Linked DNA regions of Homo sapiens. The protein of the gene in region 1 purifies or fractionates together with the protein of each later gene. This does not show direct contact. Each region holds a gene or a part of one and is shown on either strand. Other genes may lie near its edges. The genes, in order: SEC24C and SEC16A.

The links.
Region 2: the proteins of SEC24C (region 1) and SEC16A purify together in Homo sapiens (affinity purification with western blotting; 2 studies listed by BioGRID and IntAct, with this or other methods). This does not show direct contact.

The regions. Positions count from the first base shown.
Region 1 is NC_000010.11:73,754,368-73,761,636, forward strand, and holds part of SEC24C (protein transport protein Sec24C), read left to right. Parts: intron 1-5,254; coding exon 5,255-5,427; intron 5,428-5,650; coding exon 5,651-6,019; intron 6,020-6,345; coding exon 6,346-6,482; intron 6,483-7,269. UniProt on the Homo sapiens protein: Component of the coat protein complex II (COPII) which promotes the formation of transport vesicles from the endoplasmic reticulum (ER).
Region 2 is NC_000009.12:136,444,784-136,452,052, forward strand, and holds part of SEC16A (protein transport protein Sec16A), read right to left. Parts: intron 6,626-7,269; coding exon 6,473-6,625; intron 3,379-6,472; coding exon 3,301-3,378; intron 3,127-3,300; coding exon 3,070-3,126; intron 2,898-3,069; coding exon 2,786-2,897; intron 2,582-2,785; coding exon 2,444-2,581; intron 2,233-2,443; coding exon of another isoform or gene 2,167-2,232; coding exon 2,072-2,166; intron 937-2,071; coding exon 862-936; intron 329-861; coding exon 269-328; intron 1-268. UniProt on the Homo sapiens protein: Acts as a molecular scaffold that plays a key role in the organization of the endoplasmic reticulum exit sites (ERES), also known as transitional endoplasmic reticulum (tER).

The DNA.
Region 1 (7,269 bases):
TTGTGCCACTGCACTCCATCCTGGGCGACAGAGTGAGACTTCGTCTCAGGAAAAAAAAAGTATATGGGAGGTTATATGCAAATATGATGCCGTATAACCCACATCCAATTCTATTGATTCCACCTTCAAGATGTATCCCAAATCTCACTACAGTCATTCCTCAGTATCCATGGGGGAATGGTTCCAGGACCTCCCCTGACCAACAGATACCAAAATCCACAAAGGCTCAAGTCCCTCATATAAACTCTATTCAAGTAGAGATGTTAGGTAGGCAGGTGCATATACAAATCTGCAGCTCAAGACTGATGCTAGGACTGGAGATAAAAATTTGGGAGTCCTCAGTCTATAGATATTTAAAGCCGTGGGACTAGATGAAATCATTTAAAAAGTGAGTATTGAGATTAAAGAATGGAATTGAGGACTGAGACTTGGAGCTTAGCAACATTTAAAAGTAAAGAGGAGCCGCCATTAAAAGACAATGAGGGGCCAGGTGCAGTGCCTCACTCCTGTAATCCCAGCACTTTGGGAGGCTGAGGCAGGCAGATTGCTTGAGCTCAGGAGTTCGAGACAAGCCTGGGCAACATGGTGAAACCCTGTCTCTACCAAAATACTAAAATTAGCCGGGTGTGGTGGCACATGCCTGTGGTCCCAGCTTCTTGGGAGGCTGAGGTGGGAGGATGGCTTGAAACCAAGAGGCGGAGGTTGCAGTGAGCCGAAATCGCACCGCTGCACTCCAACCTGAATGACAGAGTAAGACCCCATCTCAAACAAACAAAAAAAAAACAAAAGACAATGAGAAAGAGCAGTAGTGAGGTGGGAGATAAGCCGGGAGAGTGTGGTGTCCTGAAGTCAGGTGAAGAGAGTATTTCAAGAAGGTGAGAGAGTAATCAGTTGTGTCAGATGCTGCCAAATTGTAAGATGAAGATGGAGAATTGACCATTGAATTTGGCAAGGTTGGCGTCATTGGTAAAGGCAGTTTCAGTGTAGAGATAAAGAAAACTACCCAGTTGGAGTGAGTCAGAGTTTCAGGCCAGGCGCGGTGGCTCATGCCTGTAATTCCAGCACTTTGGGAGGCCGAGGCGGGTGGATTACAAGGTCAGGAGATCGAGACCATCCTGGCTAACACGGTGAAACCCCGTCTCTACTAAAAATACAAAAAATTAGCTGGGCGCGGTGGCAGGCTCCTATAGTCACAGCTACTTGGGGGGCTGAGGCAGGAGAATGGCGTGAACCCAGGAGGCAGAGCTTGCAGTGAGCCGAGATCTTGCCACTGCACTCCAGCCTGGGCGACAGACAGCGAGACTCCGTCTCAGGAAAAAAAAAAAGTTTCAACCGGGTGGTAGATTGACATAATCTGAAAACCCTCTGCTACCAAAGTCTAGAAAGGAGAGAGAAAATAGAAACAAAAAAAATTTTTAAGTGCAAAGTTAAGCTTGAAAGAAAATGTGAAATTCTTAAGTTTTAGAGACCAAGTGAGGACTGAAAATCTTTTTTTTTTTTTAAATACAGAGTCTTGCTCTGTCGCCCAGGCTGGAGTGCAGTGGCACGATCTCTGCTCACTGCAACCTCTACCTCCCAGGTTCAAGCGATTCCCCTGCCTCAGCCTCCCAAGTAGCTGGGACTACAGATGTGGGCCACCATGCCCGGCTAATTTTTGTATTTTTAGTAGAGATGAGGTTTCACCGTGTTGGCCAGGCTGGTCTCAAACTCCTCGCCTCAGGTGAACCGCCCACCTTGGCCTCCCAAAGTGGTGGGATTACAGGCATGGGCCACTGTGCCTGGCCATCAAGTGAGGACTGAAAATCAGAGTGGTAAATTGACTCTGGAGCTGCCTGTAGATTGGGTGGATTCATCATCTTGAGAAGCCAGGGCCTTAAATTTAAGCAGGTACTGGGGAAGGCAGATGAGTCCTTGGGCTTTCCTGAGAGTAGTTTTGGAACTGAGACATTGTTTATAAAGTCTGGACCTGGGCTGCACCTTCATTGAACAAGCTGACTAGGGGAAAAAAGTCTGCACGCTGGAAAGGGGAGATAAGGAGTGCTGTTTCTCTCAGGCTGGCTGTGGATGGGTGAAAAAAAAAGTTCTTGGGACTGCAAATGGACATGACATCTTTTTGGAATGATGAAAATGTTTTAAAATTTGATTCTGGTGATGGTTGCATAACTAAATTTACTAAAAATCATTGAATTGTTCACTTGAAGTGAATTTAATGGTATGGAAATTACATCTCAGTAATATTTTTTTTTTTTTGAGACAGAGTTTTGGTCTTATTGCCCAGGTTGGAGTGCAATAGCACGATCTCAGCTCACTGCAGCCTCTGCCTCCTGGGTTCAAGTGATTCTCCTGCCTCAGCCTCCCAAGTAGCTGGGATTCCAGGCATGACCACCATGCCAGGCTAATTTTTTGTATTTTTAGTAGAGACAGGGTTTCACCATGTTGGCCAGGCTGGTCTTGAACTGACCTCAAGTGATTCACCTGTGTTGGCCTCCCAAAGTTCTGGGATTACAGGTGTGAGTCACTGTTCCTGGCCAATTTTTTTTTTTTTTTTTTTTTTTTTTTTTGAGATGAAGTCTCGCTCTGTCACCCAGGCTGGAGTGAAGTGGTGTGACCTTGGCTCACTGCAACCTCCACCTCCCAGGTTCAAGTGAATCTCCTGTCTGAACCTCTTGAGTAGCTGGGATTACAGGTGTGCACTACCACGCCTGGGCTAATTTTTGTATTTTTTTAGTAGAGATGGAGTTTCACCATGTTGGTCAGGCTGGTCTTGAACTCCTGACCTCAAATGATCCATCTGTCTCGGCCTCCCAAAGTACTGGGATTACAGGCATGAGCCACTGCACCTGGCCTAATTTTTTTTTTTTTTAAATTAGAGGCCAGGTGCAGTGGCTCATGCCTGTAGTAATCTCAACACCTTGGGAGGCTGAGACAGGAGGATCACTTGAGGCCAGAAGTTTTAGACCAGCCTGGGCAACATAGGGAGATCCTGTCGCTATAAAAAAAAAAAAATAGCTGAGCATTGTTGGTGTGCCTGGGAAGCAGAGGTGGAGGCAGGAGGATTGCTAGAGCCCTGGAGGTTGAGGCTACAGTGAGCCATGATGGCTTCGCTGCACTGTGGCCTGGGTGCCAGAGTGAGACCCTGTCTCAAAAACTAAAAAAAAAAAAAAATCAATCTAGGGTGACACTGTCATTATTGGAGTACCTTCTGGAAACAAATGTAGAACAACCACACCTCAGTCCGGGCTGGAAGGGATTATCGGAGAAAGGCACTTTGATTAGAGTTGGGCCAGGCACAGTGCTCATGTTTGTAATCCCAGCACTTTGTGAAGCCGGGGTAGGAGTTCAAGACTATCCTGGGCAGCATAGCAAGACCCTGTCTCTACAAAAAATAAAAAAAATTAGCTAGGTGTGGTGGTGTGTGCCTGTGGTCTCAGATACTTGGGAGGGGAGGCTTAGGGGGAGGATTGCTTGAGCCCAGGAGGTCAAGGCTGCAGTGAGCCACAGATAGTGAGTGCCATTGTACTCCAGCCTGGGTGACAGAGCGAGACCCTGTCTCAAAAAAAAAAAAAAAAAAAAAAAAAAAACGTAAGGCTGGGCACGGTGGCTCACGCCTGTAATCCCAGCACTTTGGGAGGTTGAGGCGGGCGAATCACGAGGTCAGGAGTTCCGAGACCAGCCCGGCCAACATAGTGAAACCCCGTCTCTACTAAAAATACAAAAATTAGCCAGGCATGATGGTGGGCACCTGTAGTCCCAGCTACTCGGGAGGCTAAGGCAGGAGAATTGCTTGAACCCAGGAGGTGGAGGTTGTGATGGGCCAAGATCGCACCACTGCACTCCAGCCTGGGCGACAGAGTGAGACTCTGTCTCAAAAGAAAAGAAAAGAAAAAAAAAAGTAGAGACAGAGTATAGACCTATTCTTTTGTAATGTTTAGCTAAAAGGGGAGCAAAAGTTTGAGGGGGCTGTGAGGTAATTTGGTTGGATTTTTAAAAAGTTTTTTGAGATATAATTCATATACTGTGCAATTCGTCTGTTTAAAGTGTTTTTGTATATTTAGTGGTTTTTAATATATTGACAGATATGTGCTGTCACAATTTAGTATATTGACAGATATCACTACAGTCAGTTTTAGAACATTTTCATCATCTGAAGAAGAAATACTGCATTCTTTAACTACCCCTGTTTAGCTATTCCCCCATTCCCCTATTCTTCCAACCTTAAGCAACTCCTGATCTACTTTCTGTCTCTAAAGATTTCCCTATTCTGGACTTTTCATTAGAATAGAATCATATACTATGTGATATTTTATAACTGACTTCTTTAATTTAGCATAATATTTTCAAAGTTCAACTATGTTGTAGTGTATATTAGTACTCCATTCCTTTTTGTGGTTAAGTGGTTTTTCATTGTGTAGCTACATGCCACATTTTGTTTATCCATTCTTCTGCTGATAGACATTTGGGATGTTTCCACTATAGTTGGTTTTTGTGTGTGTGTGTGTGTGTGTGAGATGTTTGTATGTTTTTGTGCTGATGGGAATAATCAGAGAGGGAGACACTGAATGGAAAGTATATTGGAAAGACACTGTGGTAGACTGAGGCGGGCAGATTCGTTGAGCTCAGGAGTTTGAGACCAGCCTAGGCAACATGGCGAGACTCCGTATCTATAAAAAATGCGAAAACTAGCCACGCATGGTGGCGTGTGACTTTCGTTTCAGCTACTTGAGAGGCTGAGGTGGGAAGATCAGCTGAGCCTGGAAAGTTGAGGCTGCAATGAGCTGTGATCACACCACTGCACTTCAGCCTGGGTGGCAGAGTGAGACCCTGTCTCAAAAAAAAAAAAAAGCTGGACAATCAATCTGCATTTGTTTGATTTCATATTTATTAAGGTTCATGCATGCTTATGCGTGCCTTCCCTTTCAGTGCTTTCAGGGCTTCAGATTACAAAACTGAAGAGGTTTGTCAAAGAATTGAAGCAGAGGAAGCAGTAATTTAGTTAGCAGAGTAAATAGTACTTGACCTGAAGGTGCTTGGTTTATGTTTGTGGAGTGAGCTTAATGGAAAACAAGATTTGCCATGAATAATCAGGAATATAATTTACCCACAAATATACAAAAGTATGAAGCCATAAAAGAACTCAGGGTGTGAGAGTAAGATGTCACAAAACAATGTAGCTTCCTGTATGATGTGACACTTCTGTAGACTTCAAAGGGTGTCCTGGCCCCACTAGTCACCTCTGCTTGCTTTCTTTTCACAGGCTGCCTGGGTCTCAGCCATTTGGGTCCCCATTGGCCCCTGTGGGCAACCAGCCACCTGTGCTTCAGCCCTATGGCCCTCCCCCGACAAGTGCACAGGTGGCTACGCAGCTGTCTGGAATGCAGATCAGCGGTGCTGTGGCCCCAGCCCCTCCTTCTTCAGGGCTGGGCTTTGGTGAGTGGCTGTGAACACAGGAATGTTACTGTCCCCTGTTCAGAGGCATCAGACTCTGGGGTTATACCTGAATCTCTTTTATTTCCCTTGTATTTCCTGTGCCTCTGAGCCTCAGAAGATGGGACAGTCATATTTGCCCCTCTTGTGTGGAAAGGGAAGTGATATACCGAACAAGGAGGCAGAATGACTGGGCTTTTGACTCTACCTTTATTCTACTTCTCAGGCCCACCAACATCGCTGGCTTCAGCCTCAGGAAGTTTCCCTAACTCTGGTCTGTATGGCTCCTATCCTCAGGGCCAGGCTCCTCCCCTTAGCCAGGCCCAAGGTCATCCTGGGATCCAGACTCCCCAGCGATCTGCCCCATCACAGGCCTCCAGCTTCACACCCCCAGCTTCAGGGGGTCCTCGGCTGCCTTCGATGACTGGTCCACTCCTGCCTGGACAGAGTTTTGGAGGGCCCTCAGTGAGCCAGCCCAACCATGTGTCTTCACCTCCTCAAGCTCTGCCCCCTGGCACCCAGATGACTGGGCCCCTGGGACCACTGCCACCTATGCACTCCCCGCAGCAGCCAGGCTATCAGCCCCAACAAAATGGTGAGTCTTTCCCAAGGTCTGTCTTAGAAGCTAGAGGCTTCAGCTACTCAGGTGGTTTTTGATGTTTTTTATTTGTTTGTTTTTAGTATTACTTGCTAAGTGGTGAATTAGATGGGTAGCTTCAGGGTATTATTCCTAGGATATGGGGTTTGTAAGACATTATTTTTTCTTGTCGTTCTGATAACATGGTATTTTTCTGAATGTCTTTGCCAGGCATTAGTGTGCCTCATAATTCTATGTTTTTAGGAGTCTAGTCATTTTCCTGAGGCCTTAAGAAGAGATAGGGATGGGATTTTGAGTTCATCAACCTTGTGTCCTTGTCTCAGGTTCCTTCGGACCAGCCCGGGGCCCTCAGTCTAATTATGGAGGCCCCTACCCAGCAGCACCCACCTTTGGCAGTCAGCCTGGGCCTCCTCAGCCACTGCCTCCTAAGCGCCTGGACCCTGATGCCATCCCAAGCCCTGTAAGTAGAAACTTTCATGGTCCTGAGGAAGGGTTTGTGTCTGCCAGATAGGCAGGTCAATCTAGATGAAATGTTTGCCTAGCATTTTCTGATAATTTTCCCTTTTTGTTCATCTTCTTGGAGAACTTACATATAATTTGATTCTGAACTGGAACTTGAGGTTCTAGGAGTCTTTTGGGGGGCTGTTTTACTCTATAGCTGGGCAGAGAAGGAAGGGAAACCAAGAGTGAGCAGCAGCACCAGTAGATGTCTGAGGGCTGCACTCTGTCACTACTGTACATACATAGTATAGTAGCCTTTGTCCTTCTGTGGAGCAGTGACTGGGTCTTGTCCCCTTAGATCTAGAAGGATGGCATTCTTCCTAATGGGTAGAGCAGGTGGGAATTCTCTGATGTTAGATGTTAAGAGAAGGAAAGCCTCACTGGTTTCTCTGCTCTTACTTGGACAGTTTTAGGAGGAAGTCCCCAGTACTTTTGTTTGGTAGGCTTCTGCTGTGTGGATGGGGAAGAGTGAACGACAGTTTATGAGGGCAGTGTGTATGTAAAGTCCCACTGGAGAGCTGCTTTTTTCAGGAAGAGGGTGAATTGCACCCTTGGAGCCATCAGAATCCTCAGGCCCTCCTTATCAGACTCAGAATAGAGACTAGGACTGTACTGCCAAGTAGGGGCCACTTTATAGTTCCACCTGTAACATTTGCTATGTCAGTTACCTTGCCATGCTTAGCCATTGTCATATTCCATTCTGTTCTCGTCCCTCTTCCTCCTTTGGGTAACCAACACAGTGAGGG
Region 2 (7,269 bases), on another chromosome or scaffold:
CAGGAGGATGGCTTGAACCCAGGAGGTGGAGGTGGCGGTGAGCTGAGATCACACCATTGCATTCCAGCCTGGGCAACAAGAGCGAAACTCCGTCTCAAAAAAAAAAAAAAAAAAAAAAGGAACCCTGTACCCTTGGTCACGTGACGCTGAGGGAGACAACGGGCGAGGTTAGTGGCAAAGCGCACGTGGCGAACCGGCACCGCGTGCTCAGGAACACAGGCGGCACACGCCAGCTCTCATGTTAGTGAGGACCACCAGCCGCAGGTACCTGATTAAAATGCTGGCTCACTTCACGTGATAATGAACTCATTGAACTACAGCGCGAAAGCTACAAAACAGCAAGAACACACATAAAACACGGACGAAAGTCAACATGCACGTCACTGTCCAATCCAAGCTGTCAGTTCCATTTCAAAAGCTTTGTGATGCCATTAGAATCAACATAACTCAAAAGGGAAAAAAAAGCCAGTGTTAGCTTAAGATTCCTGTCTTAATGTAAAGCTGTTATCCCGAAACAACCATTAGCTTAGGGGAGGGCTGGGAGGAAAAGTCCAGCCTCGGCCTAAGCCAGCTTCACCTCCTGACACCTCACAATTCAAGACAATTCCCGTGCTGTTGAAGGGAGAGGACCGGGACTGAGGCGACAACTCAAACCCCCTGCACCCCTCCTGGAGCTCCCAAACAGTTTTGTTAAAACAAGTGCAATTTTTTTTCCCCCAGGAACACCACCTTCGAGGTGCTCTTGTTTCTAAACTGCCTCTTCCTACCCAGTACCGCCCCTCCATAAAGGAAGAGGCGCCTGGACAGTGAGCTGCTGGGGAGGCCTGGGCTGCGGGGGGCCCTGGCGTCGGCACTCCTTACCTCTCCTCCCTGGGAACCCTCAGGCCTGGAGGAGGGGAGTTCAGAGCCAGGGAGTGACGCTGCAGAGCTTAAAACCTGCCGAGGAAAAGAAGAATTGCAGCAACCAAATCCCAGGGAATTTAAGTCTCTCACACCAGGCCAAAAAATATGAAACTGTTCTGGCCTGGGTTACAAACGCCCTCTTCCACGTAAAGTGCTCCTCAGAGAGAAGTGAAAAGTGCCTCACACGTGGGTCCAGCCGCACAACCCTGTTGACTCTAGACCCCTGCAGCTCTCTACCAGGTGCCTGTGTGTGCCCATGACAGGCTTGCAATCTGGGGCTACTGTTATTCCCATTTTACAGAGGGGAAAACTGAGGCTTAGACAGGTGAGTGACTGCCCCATGCTTTACACAGCTGATGAATGGAGAACAGGATTAGGCCCAGGCCTGTCCCACCGTACAGAGTGCAGTCTGAGCTGGTTTTTTTTTTTTTTTTTTTGAGATGGAGTCTGGCTCTGTTGCCCGGGATGGAGTGCAATGGCGCAATCTCAGCTCACTGCAACCTCTGCCTCCTGGGTCCAAGCGATTCTTCTGCCTCAGCCTTCTGAGTAGCTGGGATTACAGGCACCCGCCACCACACCCAGGTAAATTTTGTTTTTTTTTTAGTAGAGATGGGGTTTCACCATGTTGGCCAGGCTGGTCTCGAACTCCTGACCTCAGGTGACCCGCCCAGCTCAGCCTCCCAAAGAGCTGGGATTACAGGCATCATCCACCACTCCCGACTGGTCTGAGCTGTTCTACTTCACATGGGAGTCATTTGTTTTTTGTTTTTTTTTTTTGGATGAAAATATACTTAACTTTTATTATCGGTAGGTAATTTCTCTGTAACTTAGAGTAATTAATTTTACTTTTTCCAATTTTAAAAATTGTAAAATATACATACTGTAAAATTTGCCACTTTAATCATTTTTAAGTTTTAAGCACATTCACCGTGCTGAGCAACCATCACCGCCACTATCCCCAGATCTCCGTCTTCCCAAACAGCTCTGTCCCGCCCGGCACCCTGCATTCTACCTTCCGTCTCTACCATACATAAGTGTGAGGCGTTTAAGGCGGAACACTCTACGTACACATTGGATACTGACTTGCAGAAGGCAAGGCCCTGTCTGGCAGGATGGGGAGGTGCCTCCTCACTGGGTACCTTTCCCCTTTCCCACCGTACCCGCTCACCTTGGGCTCTGGGGCAGGCTCTGGATTGGCCAGGCCCCTAGCTGCTGCAGGCCCTTCCCTGCCAGTCCCGTCTGGAAGCTGTGGTTCTTCTGCATCTGGGGATGAGAGAGCGAGGAGGCCATCATTCCGTCCCGAACGTCCCTGGGGTCTCACTGAAGACACTCCGAGAGGAAGAGAGTTTCACACTGCACACGCGGCACACTCATGCAGAAACAGGCAAATCAAAAAAAAAACCACAAACCAACCCCAGGCTCTCTGCATGCTGGCCAGGTCATTCTTTTAACGGGAGATTTAGGAGAGACTCATAGAAAGAGGATCAAAGGTCAGGAGACTGGGGGCTGACCTGGAGGGGCTGGTGCTCGTGCTACCTACCTGGGGTTGGCACGAACAAGTTAGAAGGAATTGGGAGTGGCGCGAGTGGAGCGACAAAGTCCGCAGGAGCGAGAGCCGGCTCGCTCCGCTGGGTCCCGCTTGGGTTCAGGACGTCAACGTAGCGAGCTCTGGTTCCTGCTGCAAAGGGGAGGGAAGCAAATTGAGGTGAACGCGCCAGGTGGCCTCCAGCTTCCAAATGCTCTGCGCTCACTGCGTCAGAGGAAAAGCACGCAGGGACGTGCGGGAAGCCACCTCCTCCCCACGCACAACAGCTACACATTGGCCTCTCTCTCTGGGACAGTTAATCGTTCAAGCAAGCTCCCACTCCAAGGCCACCCTTACCTGCTCTTCTAGAGTACATGTTCACGGGGGCTCCAGGAGGCCCTGGGAGGGCAGGCGGGGCAGCTTGCACAGTCTTGGGCATCGAGGTTGGAGGTGGGGGCGGGGCTTTCTTCTGCAGAGGGAAACACAGCTTCAGACACCCACTGTGTGCACAGAAACCCACTGGGATGGCACAGTCAGGAGGCTCCAAAAGGGGCAACAGCCACCCAAATATCACAGGGCCACATGAGGCTGTTCCCTCCACTCACACCTCACACCCAACAGGAACTAGAATGACAATTTACCTCCTCTTCTGGCTCATTTAAATTCACCCACTGGTTTTTCTTTTCATCCCAAACAATCTGCCAAGATTTTAAAAAGAAAAAAGGTCAGCAGACTGAACCTAAACAGAATTAGCATCTGATTAATGATGACACTTCAAAACTTCAGGAAACACCTACTCAGGTCTGCTCTGAAAGTGACAGAAAAATCATTACAATTCTTCGGACGTCCCGTGCGTATTTGACAGCACTCACCGATTTGTTCTTGTCATCTGGCAAATAAGCTTCTGTCTTTTTCTTTCCAGGTAGCCAACGAAAGAACCAGGATTCACCCTAAATATAAAAAACACGAGAACAACTTTGAAAACATTATGTTCCATGAAATAAGCCAGGGCAAAAAGACAAATTCTACATGACCCACTTCTGTGAGGCCCCAGAGTCGCCAGATCCACAGAGACACCAGGAGAATGGAGGTGGGAGCAGATCCACAGAGACACCAGGAGGATGGAGGTGGGGAGCAGATCCACAGAGACACCAGGAGGATGGAGGTGGGGGGCGATCCACAGAGACACCAGGAGGATGGAGGTGGGGGGCGATCCACAGAGACACCAGGAGGATGGAGGTGGGAGCAGATCCACAGAGACACCAGGAGGATGGAGGTGGGGGGCAGATCCACAGAGACACCAGGAGGATGGAGGTGGGAGCAGATCCACAGAGACGCCAGGAGGATGGAGGTGGGGAGCAGATCCATAGAGACACCAGGATGGAGGTGGGGAGCAGATCCAGACACACCAGGAGGATGGAGGTGGGGAGCAGATCCACAGAGACACCAGGAGGATGGAGGTGGGGAGCAGATCCAGAGACACCAGGAGAATGGAGGTCGGGGGCAGATCCACAGAGACACCAGGAGGATGGAGGTGGGGGGCAGATCCACAGAGACACCAGGAGGATGGAGGTGGGGAGCAGATCCACAGAGACACCAGGAGGATGGAGGTGGGAAGCAGATCCAGAGACACCAGGAGGATGGAGGTGGGAGGGAACCGGGAGTTGTTTCGTTTCAAGGAGACAGAGTTTCTGTTTGGGAAGGTGAGACAGTTCTGGAGATGGATGGTGGTGATGGCAACACAACAGTGTGAATGTACTTGGTGCCACAGAACTGTGCACTCAGAAAATGGTAAAAATGTGCATTTTGTTCTGTGTATTTTACTGTCATTTAAATAGGTCAGAACAGTAACGTGCCTTCAGGAACTTTTTACGTCTAAACACTGACAAAGCTTCCGACGTCCTCCCCTTTGAGAAGTGGAAGGCGGGCTGTCCAAGTCAGTGTGTGTCGGAGGCAGATACAGCCCTCTGTGTTTCCCATGTGTGGAGAATTCGGTTATTAGGAAACTTTACTTTATTCTTCACATGATGCACTTCATTTTGGTTTGTTAGTTTTCTGAGACAGAGTCTCGCTCTGTCCCCCAGGCTGGAGTGCAATGGCGCGATCTCGGCGCACTGCAACCTCTGCCTCCCGGGTTCAAGTAGTTCTATGCCTCAACCTCCTGAGTAGCTGGGATTACAGGCACCCACCACCATGCATGGCTAATTTTTGTATTTTTAGTAGAGATGGGGTTTCACCATCTTGGCCACGCTGATCGTGAACTCCTGACCTCATGATCTGCTCGCCTCAGCATCCCAGAGTGCTGGGGTGACAGGCGTGAGCCGCCGCACCCTGACTCCCAGAATGCTGGGGTGACAGGCAGGAGCTGCTGCGCCCGGCCTCCCAGAGTGCTGGGGTGACAGGTGTGAGCCGCCATGCCCGGCCTGATGCACTTCACTTCTACTGAAGAAAGAGGAGAAGCCTCAGCAGCTACTACACACCCTCAATTCTGTTTCTCTGTGAGTTCTACTGGCCAGACAAGCTGTCCCGGGGAGGCCTGTGATAGCCTATGCACTGGAAACCTGCTCAAGTATCATGTTTTATCTCAGAGCTCACACAAATTTGGAATTAAATGTGTGTTTATTTTCAAGACAGCAGCCATAAAAGAAAAATCTGATCACTGAACTTTATTAAAATGAAGAATGATATTTTTCATAAAATACCATTACTAGGCCGGGCATGGTGGCTCACACCTGTAATCCCAGTACTTTGGGAGGCCAAGGCAGGCAGATCACTTGAGGTCAGGAGTTTGAGACCAGCCTGGCCAACATGGTGAAACCCCATCTCTACTAAAAATACAAAAAATTAGCTGGGAGTGGGGTGGGCACCTGTAATCCCAGCTACTGGAGAGGCTGAGGCAGGAGAATTGCTTGAACCTGGGAGGCGGAGGTTGCAGTGAGCCAAGATCATGCCAATGCACTCCAGCCTGGCTGACAGAGTGAGACCCTGTCTCAAAACAAACAAACAAACAAACAAACAAAAAACCATTACAAGTAAAAAGGCAATCTACAGATTGGGAGAAGATATCACAATAAATACACCTAACAGAGGACTTATATCCATAATACAGAAAGGACTCCTGCAAGTCCTGAAGAGAACACCATTAAAAATGGAAAGGAAAGCCAGGTGTGGTGGCTACACCTGCAGTCCCAGCTACGAGGCAGGAGGATCACTTGGGCCCAGGAGTTTGAGACCAGCCTGGGCAATAGTGAGACCCCATCTTTATGGGGGAAAAAAAAAACAACGGATAGAGACTTGAACAAGCACTGCCCCAAAAGAGTGGTGAGATGGTAACAGGGACACGAGAAGGTGCCCAGCGTCACACCTCGCTGTGGAGATGCAGAGGAAGACACAATGAGATGTCATCAGCCCCAGCACAATGGCTAAGTTAAAGAACCGGCACTGCCCAGTATTGGTGAAGATGAGGGATATCCAGGGCCCTTGTCCTCTGCTGCAGGATGTGTGACTTGGGGCAACCAACCATTTAGGACAACTGCTCAGCAGTGTCTCCTAAAGCTGAACACACGCTCATCCTGCGAGCTAAACCCTCAGCTCCTTGGCACGCACCTAAGAAAAACAAGCGCATTCGCCAATAGATAGGCAAGGAGGCTCCTGGGGCCTGACGGATCCCAGCCCCACACTGAAAGCAGTCCCAAAGTCCACGGCTGGGAGAAAGGATCTGTGAGCCGGCAGCAGGCACACACCACAGTGACAAAGCAGCGGCTGCCGTCTGGTCCCTTGCGGGTGGGTCTGACAGGTAGTGGCCAGAGGCGACCTCTGGGGGCCGGGCTGTGTCCCCATGCTGACCTGGGTGGGCTATTATCCTATTATCTGAAGGCACAAATACACAGACACCCATCATGCCGTGTGCACTGTAGACACTCGGCTGTTTGTATCAGGAGGCTATTTGCATGTGTGGTGAATTAAGAGGATGGCGCTCTGGGAAGCGTGCCTCCTGCCCAAACCCTCCCGGCCGCCAGGCGCACCGTGGGCAGGCTGTACTACCTTCTTAGGTTCCTTCGTTTCTTTCTTGGCTGCCTGTCCGGGTCTCTTTGTTTCGGGAGCGGGTGAGAGAGACAGAGGTGGCTGCGTGGGACCCGAGTCGGCACGATCCCACCCTGGGGGGGCCTCCGAGTCTGGCACCGTCCTCGAGGGGGTCTGTCGCAAGGAAATGCAGAACAGGCTCTCCTGGGGCTCCTCACAGGAACCGAAAGAGAGAGGGGGATGCAATTCCCCAGGCGTGTTTCCTAAATACATCACTGAGAGGCCGGATGACTCTGGTGACCAGAGGGAGGCAGGAAGGGGGCTGGGGAGAGCAGCCCCCTGACTGGGCCTCCCAGAGCCTCTACCTGGCCTGACTAGAGAAGAGCCAGCCGCACTTAATAAGCAGCTCCGTCTGGGAGCACTCAGCACTCAGAATGCAAATGAGGGCGTTCGATGGAGATTCCGGGCTGGAAGAAACGGAGTGTGAGCATGCACTGAGGGAAGACTGGCCAGAGGGGGGCGATGGGTGTTCTCAAAGATACAATGATTTTTAAAAATATTTATTCCTGGGTCAAGTCCCAATTTTTAATAGCTCAACCCTCATTTTTACTTTTCCAGGGACACAGTATTTTAAAGGGTAAAACACCTAATGCAAGTTCAAACTATAGCAATCGCCTACTGATGGGATGCCCGTGAAGGGCTGGGTATCTGTAAAGAAGGTTCCAGAATGCGGTCTGTATAAAAGCAACCATCCCTCCTGGTTAGGAGTAGAGCAAACAGAGGAGGTATTTATACCAAACATGTCTAATGAGATAAAT